Regions from separate parts of the Homo sapiens genome. Here regions 1 and 2 are each linked to region 3. Evidence: fine-mapped expression QTL. A gene starts in region 3. Each other region holds a variant in brackets. All regions are shown on one strand. Distances are from middle to middle.

What was found. PIP is the estimated chance that this variant, and not a neighbour inherited with it, causes the effect. A credible set is the group of variants that fine-mapping cannot tell apart.
Region 1: its variant is the best candidate, but not a certain one, in a credible set for the expression of FSTL4 in whole blood (GTEx, PIP 0.55).
Region 2: its variant is the best candidate, but not a certain one, in a credible set for the expression of FSTL4 in iPS cells (HipSci, PIP 0.55).

Annotation. Positions count from the first base shown.
Region 1 is chr5:133,508,516-133,511,362 of GRCh38, forward strand. All of the region lies in intron 3 of FSTL4 (follistatin like 4), which reads right to left. Among named protein-coding and RNA genes, the nearest start is that of MIR1289-2, 82 kb to the left of the region's middle. The variant G/A (reference allele first, on the strand shown) is at 1,230.
Region 2 is chr5:133,588,314-133,591,160 of GRCh38, forward strand. All of the region lies in intron 2 of FSTL4 (follistatin like 4), which reads right to left. Among named protein-coding and RNA genes, the nearest start is that of FSTL4, 23 kb to the right of the region's middle. The variant G/A (reference allele first, on the strand shown) is at 1,273.
Region 3 is chr5:133,611,122-133,613,621 of GRCh38, forward strand. FSTL4 (follistatin like 4) reads right to left here and starts at 1,420. Exons shown (of 16, transcript NM_015082.2): 1 at 1,204-1,420. RefSeq lists a silencer at 102-151.

The sequences.
Region 1 (2,847 bases), 100 kb before region 3:
TATGTGACAGGAATTTTTCAGGTTCAGTGTAATCGTACAGGACTTCCACTGTACATGCGGTCTGTTGTCAACTGAAACATCATTATGCAGCACATGACTAAGTAATCCAGAGATCATTTAAAGTGTATGGAAGAACGTGTGTAGGTTATATGCAAAAACGACACCACTTTGTAGAAGGGACTTGAGCATCTGAGGATTTTAGTATCTGTGGAAGTCCTGAAACCACATGAGTGAGAAGCAAATAGCTTTAAAATAGCATTAACAGTATAATCTGTTTAATGCAAACTGCTAGGATGTATTTTGCCCAGATCCTGTTTAAGCAAGGCTTGATATTTTACATGCTCCTTAGAGTCTGTCTTGTTGGGCCTTTCATCTTACTCTTATATAAGGTAAGTGCTGATCTTGTTAATCATCTTACTCATATATAAGGTAAGTGTTAATCTTGTAATCCTTCCTTGTTTCTCAAGGAAGGAAAGCATACCTCTAGAAGCACATTAAAGGACTTGCTATTGGTTTACTCTGTAAACCAGGAACCTGACATAGTTGCTGGTTTCTGAGTAACCACAGCAGTACAACAAATGAAAGGAAATAAATCTAGTTTTGATTTTCAAAATGCAGGCCTATTCCAGCCACCCCATCACTTTCCCATCCCTGTGTTTAAGCCTCCTTCAGACCACAGCAGAGCTGCCCTGCTACACTGGGTGAGCCCTTCTCCTGCAGTTTTGCCCTGGCTACAGAGCTGCAACCCCCACACCTCATCTCCTCTGGGCTCTGGATTCTCAAGAGACAGAAACCTCCTCTTTTTTACAACACAGCAAAGACCTGGCCAACCTTCTCCGTCTCCTCTTTTTCATGGCCTGTCCAGATTTTTGCTTTTCTAATTTCCTCTTCTGATTCTTTATCAGAGAGGAGCCTTTGTGGTCCAGGGCCTGCCTCCTCCTTGCTCATTTCAGCCAGCACCCAGAATACCCTCACAGAGAAGCAAATCACTCAGCAAGCACCAATTTATCCCAAGAAAACCTTTTAAGGGGTTGAGACCAATGAGTGTTCACTCTCGCTATTTAAATGGTTATTGCTCTCAGCCCAGGAGTATGGCTGTTGGAGCTTTCACTTGTTTTCTCCTGGAAATGATTCATTTCATAACAACAGAGTCCTTCAGCGAAGGACTGCAATAGCTTCTGGGTTGCTAAACACTCTGAATGTTTCATTATGGATAATGGGCCTAACAC[G/A]ATAACATATGTAAGCAACCAGGAAAGGAGAACAGATACAAAGACAGCCATGAAGCTGGGCAGGCAGTGTGACAGCTCTGTCTCTCCTGCTGCCCTGGGCAGTGCCCACTGACCCAGAGCCTTGACCCTGAAATGCTTGCTCTGAACCTTGGCAGGAACCTCAGAAGTCATGCACGTGTTCACTGACCACAGAGCTCTAGGGACAAACATCTGGTTTCCGATATGGAGTGTAGGCAAAAGATCTGGTCCACTCACTCATACTTCATAATCATAACCAATGATTTAGTGCCCACTGTATGCTAGGCCCTGTGCCAAGGTATTTAGTACGTTATATCCTTTAATCCTCAGAATAACCCTATGAGGAAGGCACCAGCATTATCCCCATTTTACAGTTGAAAGAACTGAGGCATAGTGTGATTAACTAATTTGTCTAAGGTCACAGAGTTAAGTGGCATGGCCAGACAATGGAACCTCGTTGCCTTACCCTCAATGCTGTGAAACAATAGACAACAGCCCACAGCAACACCCTCTACACAGTGGTTCTGGGCAAAACACCTTGTTGGCATCATATATTAACAAATCCACTGACCCCCAAAAGACCATGTGGTAAGTTAAATGAGCTCCTGCTTATTTCTATATAAAAAATTACCTTTCAAACCCCAAGGACTGTGCATGGATATTCCCAGGTTGGGCTAAAGCTCATGTTGTCCAGGTGGTACCTTCCTGTCAGCTCTCCACGATTCATTTATGAGTCTGGAGTTTGCTACTGGACCTACCCAACAATGTTCCCAGCCTTCCCTGAGAACAGACCATGCAAGCTTTCAGGAAGATCAATTTTTCCAGCAGAAGGAGAAACCACAAACTTAGCTCCCTACCCAGATTTTATCTCCCACTCCAAGAGAACTGGGGGAAAACAAAACATTTTAAAGGCAAACAGGAACAAAATGTAGTGTAAATGTTACTGAGAGCGCTCTCTTCATGGAGCCCCAGGGAGTCCTTTCTGGAAGACAGGAGCTTTGCGATCCTGTCCTCTGCCTCTACCGGTGAGTCAGCAAAATGGATCTGAGCGCAAGGCTAGAGCCACAGCCGTGTCCCACTCGATAAGGTTTCCGCTGGTTCTCTCCTCTGACGTCAAAACCCATCTGTGAGATGGGGACATGAAAGCCAGCTCTCGCTCAAAAAGGGTTTCTGTATAGCTCTCGGGCTGGCCCCTGTTTCAGAAGCCATTCTTACAGTGATTTTGTAGCAACTGATGTTTCTCTTGCTTGGTCATCTCTCACCTCCAGCTCAAGGAGTTTTTGCGAGCTCAGTTTCTGGGCCTGAGATGAGATGTATCCCCTCTGAGTTCCATCAAGGCCACAGGCCATGCCTTCAAGGGCACCCCAAGCACAGCCAGACCAGCTGTGGGCCAGGCTCCTCTGGGTCCCTCAACCTAAGCTGGCATCTCTCTGTGGCACAAGTGGTCTGCCATGGGCCTGGGTCCCTGGTTAGGACATGATCAGCACCCTGAGATACTCAGGATCATTCAGCGATGGAGTTGCATGTGCTCTTCTTCTTTCCAGCCAGACCTTAAGGACAAAGAACCAGGCTTCTGGATTTGCGCTGTTCCCTCTTCTCC
Region 2 (2,847 bases), 23 kb before region 3:
ACAGCAAAAGAAACTACCATGAGAGTGAACAGGCAACCTACAACATGGGAGAAAATTTTCGCAACCTACGCATCTGACAAAGGGCTAATATCCAGAATCTACAATGAACTCAAACAAATTTACAAGAAAAAAACAAACAACCCCATCAAAAAGTGGGCGAAGGACATGAACAGACACTTCTCAAAAGAAGACATTTATGCAGCCAAAAAACACATGAAGAAATGCTCATCATCACTGGCCATCAGAGAAATGCAAATCAAAACCACTATGAGATATCATCTCACACCAGTTAGAATGGCAATCATTAAAAAGTCAGGAAACAACAGGTGCTGGAGAGGATGTGGAGAAATAGGAACACTTTTACACTGTTGGTGGGACTGTAAACTAGTTCAACCATTGTGGAAGTCAGTGTGGCGATTCCTCAGGGATCTAGAACTAGAAATACCATTTGACCCAGCCATCCCATTACTGGGTATATACCCAAAGGACTATAAATCATGCTGCTATAAAGACACATGCACACGTATGTTTATTGCGGCACTATTCACAATAGCAAAGACTTGGAACCAACCCAAATGTCCAACAATGATAGACTGGATTAAGAAAATGTGGCACATATACACCATGGAATACTATACAGCCATAAAAAATGATGAGTTCATGTCCTTTGTAGGGACATGGATGAAATTGGAAACCATCATTCTCAGTAAACTATCGCAAGAACAAAAAACCAAACACCGCATATTCTCACTCATAGGTGGGAATTGAACAATGAGATCACATGGACACAGGAAGGGGAATATCACACTCTGGGGACTGTGGTGGGGTCGGGGGAGGGGGGAGGGATAGCATTGGGAGATATACCTAATGCTAGATGACACGTTAGTGGGTGCAGCGCACCAGCATGGCACATGTATACATATGTAACTAACCTGCACAATGTGCACATGTACCCTAAAACTTAGAGTATAATAAAAAAAAAAAAAAAGATCAAGGCCCCAGAACCTTGCTTCTGAAAGGGAGACTGCTGTGGTCAACCCTTAGGAACTTCCCAAGGCCAATTCTTAAAAGCAGAAACAGAGACCACCAAATATCACACACTTAGTCCTCCACCCACAGACACTGCCCTCACTGTCCCATGTGAGGGCAGTAGCTGCCAAGTCCCCAGTGGAATCCTGGAAGAAGTGCAAGGAAATAGCCAAAGGAATGTTAATATGTTAATTCTCAGAGGTTCAGTGGCTGCCTGATGGTGAAAGAAGAGAAATTGTTGGG[G/A]AGGAGGGGGAATAGGGGCAGAACTCATCTCTCCCCACAGAAGGTCAAGAGGCCACCCACCGCCCAGCCCCAGAAGACCACCTCAAACTCTGCTGCCCTCCAGGAGGAGGGGATGCCTCCTCTGATGTGACGTTGTCTGCTTTGGCCTTCCAAAGCTCAATGTCATCAAATGTCCTTTCCCTAGATTCAAAAATATGTCCTTGGGGATAAGAGCACAATACTGTGGTTAGGAATACATGCTAGATAGTCAGAAAGCCAGATGCAAACCCTGGCTCCACCACTTACTATATGGGAGATCTCAAACAGCTCACTTATCTTGAAGCCTCAATTTCTACATGTGTAAAATAAACAAATTAATAATACCTCATAGACTCTCTTTGAGAAGTCAATGAATTAATCTACTTAGTGCTTTGGCAAAATGAAAGCTGTTTATTAATTCTATCATATCAATAGCTATGGAATTAAGAAATTCATATTAGGAATGAGAATTCCTATTGGGAATCTCCTCTTTATTTATTTATTTATTTATTTATTTATTTGAGACACAGTCTTGCTCTGTCGCTCTGTCACCAGGCTAGAGTGCAGTGGCATGATCTTCCTCTTTATTCTTATAAGAGAAGGATAAGAGGAGCCATTCAGACTTCCAGCCCAGAGCTCCAGATGACACTGCCCCCTTTCATCCTCACCCTAGAGATGTCCCTGGTTCCCTAGCCCTCTCTAACTCTTGGCTACACAGAAAGAGATATCACAACAAAAACCAAATTTTTAATGCAATAAGACTTTGTATCTAGCTGGGAGCAAAGCTGAGATTCAGAACTGGGGAGGTGGGGAGTGCATCTATCTCATCTTGTCTTCCATGATGACAGGCCAAATTATCCCACAGCAGCTCAACTATTTTGCTTGCTGGATTTGGCAGGGTGGTGGACCTTCTAAGAAGAGGCATCTGGTCAAGCCATGACTCCCCTCCCATGTAACCCCTCTTTCTTTCCAAGAATGATTCCAGCTAAACCTCAAAGCAGCTGCACTAAGGAGCTCCCTACAGCCACAGGATATGTATCTCTGGAGTCACAGGGCCACAACTGAGCACCAAAGCCTGCTCCCCTTTAGTGAGTTTGATGGGTCAGGCGTGGACACAGGCTGCCTTAGTCCATTTTGTGCTGCTATAACAGAATACCTGAGACTGGGTACTTTATAATGAACAGAAATGTATTGGCTCACAGTTCTGGAGTCTGGGAAGTCCAAGATTGAGGGGCTGGCATTTTGCAAAGGCCTCCTTGCTGCATACTCCCATGGTGAAAGGTCAAAGACAGAGAGCAAGAGATCCAATTCCCAGTCTCAAGCCCTTCTGTAATCGGCATTCCTGAGGATGGAGCATGGAGCCTTCGTTACCTAAACACCCCCATTAGGCACCATCACCCAACTTGTGGCACTGGGGATTAAGTTTCCAACACATGCTTTTTGGGGAACACATTCCAACCATAGTACCCCAGGAGCCAAGGGCACTGGCACCAGGATGGAGGGGAGGACCAGGGTAGTGACTGGCAAAATGCAAGTCGGCCTGTGGAGGCCAAGCCT
Region 3 (2,500 bases):
CGCGCCATTCATCAGTGTCGGCGGCCCGCGGCCGCGAGCGAGGGCTGCTGGACAGCGCCCCGGCACCCGCTCTCGAGCCGCGACACCGACCTCGCCGGGCCCGCCCCGCTGACCCGCGCACTCCTAGTGCACTTGCCGCGCCGCGCGGAGGCTCGCCGCGCTCTGGAAAACAAGAAACCCCACTGCCTCGGCGGCTTTCCGCTCCCGCAAGAGTTGCGGGCACAAAGTCCTCAGGTGGCAGGCCTGGGGTTGGCGCCGCTTTGTCGGCTGCAGGGAGCCCCAAAGACTAGCGTCAGCTCGTCCCCAAACTCGAGGCGACAGGCGCCGAAAGCAGAGTGCTGTGCCTGCCTCGTCCAGGTCCCTCCTGAAACTCAGAACTCGTCTTTGTTTTGCGGGCGCAAAGAGGGCGGAGATCATCCACAGTGCAAGCTCTCTTAGGACCAAGCCCCCAGCCCGAACGCTGAACGCCCCCAACACACTGCTCCCTAGACACGTTCAAGCGGGTACCCCGGGCCGCTCACTCTGGACCGCGGCCGGCTACGCACAAGCAGCGCCGCAGGCTGCCTGGAGTCGGGTCGTGCCCTGATTCCTTCCTCCCCAGCCTCACATGCGGCGGACCCCGGGGAAGCCAGGGCCAGGCGAAGCGCAGCGGGCCCTTTGGGCTGCAGCGAGGAGACGCAAGTTTCCCCGCAAAGCCGCGGGGAGGAGGTGCTGAGAATGCCTGCCCGGCGCCCCAACCCGGAGCCAAGGGCACCGGGCCCGGGCCGAGGGGCCGCGCTCGCCTGGCTCCGCCGGGGCCGCTCGGGGTCCTGAACCCAAGAACGGCGCCTGCAGGATTTCGGAGCCGGGCGCGAGCTGCGGGCTCGGCCCGAGCGCTTCTGCGTGGCGCCCCGCGTGCCAACCGGGTCACTCCGGTCCCCACCGTAGACCCCGGCCACGAGCCTCGGCGTCCCAGCCTCTCCTCGAGTCCTGGCCTTGGCCGGGGTAGCCCTGCCGAGCCCTGGCCCAGCGGTCCCTTCCCCGCGGGCAAACTTGGCTTTCCCGGCGCGGGCAGTAAGGACAAGCAAGCGCCCGCGCCGGGCCCTGCAGCAAGATGCGGGGCCGCGGGCGCCAGGACCCCAGTGGGGTGCAGCGGGACCGGCTGGTGGCGGCGCCAGCGACATGGCACCCTCCCCGCGCCCGCTGGGAGCTGCGCCCGCGTACCTGAGACGGCCGGGGCCGAGGGGAAGACCAGGTGGCCGGACTTGGGCGGGAGGGAGGGAGCACCCCGTGGCGGCGGCGGCGACCCCGCCCCGCGTCCTTCGGCTGGTTTCTCGGGCTGTCGGCGGGTCCCGGGCTCGCTGGAGGCTGTTGAGGCTCCAGCTCCCTGAGCCGCCGCTGCCCGCTGCTGTGCCACCGCCGCCGCGGCTGCCCTATTTCTGCCGCCGGGACCGGAGCCCGTGACGTCACCCTCTGGGCCCCGCCTGCCCAATCGCCGCCACCTGTGCGCGCCGCCCGCCCGCCAGCCGGTCAGACCCGCGCGGCGGCCACGGCAGGTGCGCGGAGCAGGCGGGCGCGCACGCGGGGCGCGATGACTCCGGAGCGCTGGGGCCATCTAGGGCCCGGAGGGAGGAGGGCCAGCGTAGCGCTCCTGCCTCTGGCTAGCGTGGAGCTCGGCAAGTGACAGCCCCTCTTCACCTCTGCTCTCCTCCAGGCTCCTTTCCGGGCCAGGTTCCCCAAAGCTGTGCTCTCCAGGCGCACAGGGGGTCTCTGAATCCGCGGCCATTGCTCGTGGAGTCCAGGCGGGCCGGTACACCACAGCAGGAGAGCTGTCCCTGGGGACAAAGTGGGTGAAATCCCCCGCCGTTGAGACCCAACAACCTGGGAAACAGCAAAGGTTTTCTCTTTTCTGAATCTTCCCTCTTCCAACTACAGAATCTTAAGACATTCAGGGCATACAGGGGCAATCCCAAGTGACATTTGCCTACCTGACCTAGCTGGGCCCAGAGGGTCCCTTCTCCCTTAGAACAGGATATTTCCCCATCCTGATCCCATCCCCAAGCCTGGGGCTCCCAAACTTTTCTGAATCCCTCTTTAACATCAGCAGCTTTTGAGATCAGTCTTCCTTCCCGAATGAACTGGAAACACCTTTGTAACAACTAGGGGCCCATAAATGGTCATACGTAGCCTCAGTCTGGCAGGAAACTTAGGAGGGAGCCCCTACCCAGGCCAGGCTGATGGCCAGGAGACTTTCTGAGGGCCTGCCTCCTGCTCTGGCTGCGTGGGCACCAGGGGCCTTCCTGGCTTAGGTGAACAGTGTTCTGTCCATGCCTCTGTAATCTCTCCTGGCCGGGGGGAGGTGACAGAGGGGATTTTTCTGAGGATGAAGTTAGTTAAATATAAGGAAAAGGGGAAGAATAATGGAAGGCTGACCTGAAGAAAGAGATATTACGTTTGTTTTTTCCTTCCACAGATTTTCCTGCCGCTGAACCCCTCCAATGCAGCAGGCACTGTGCTATTA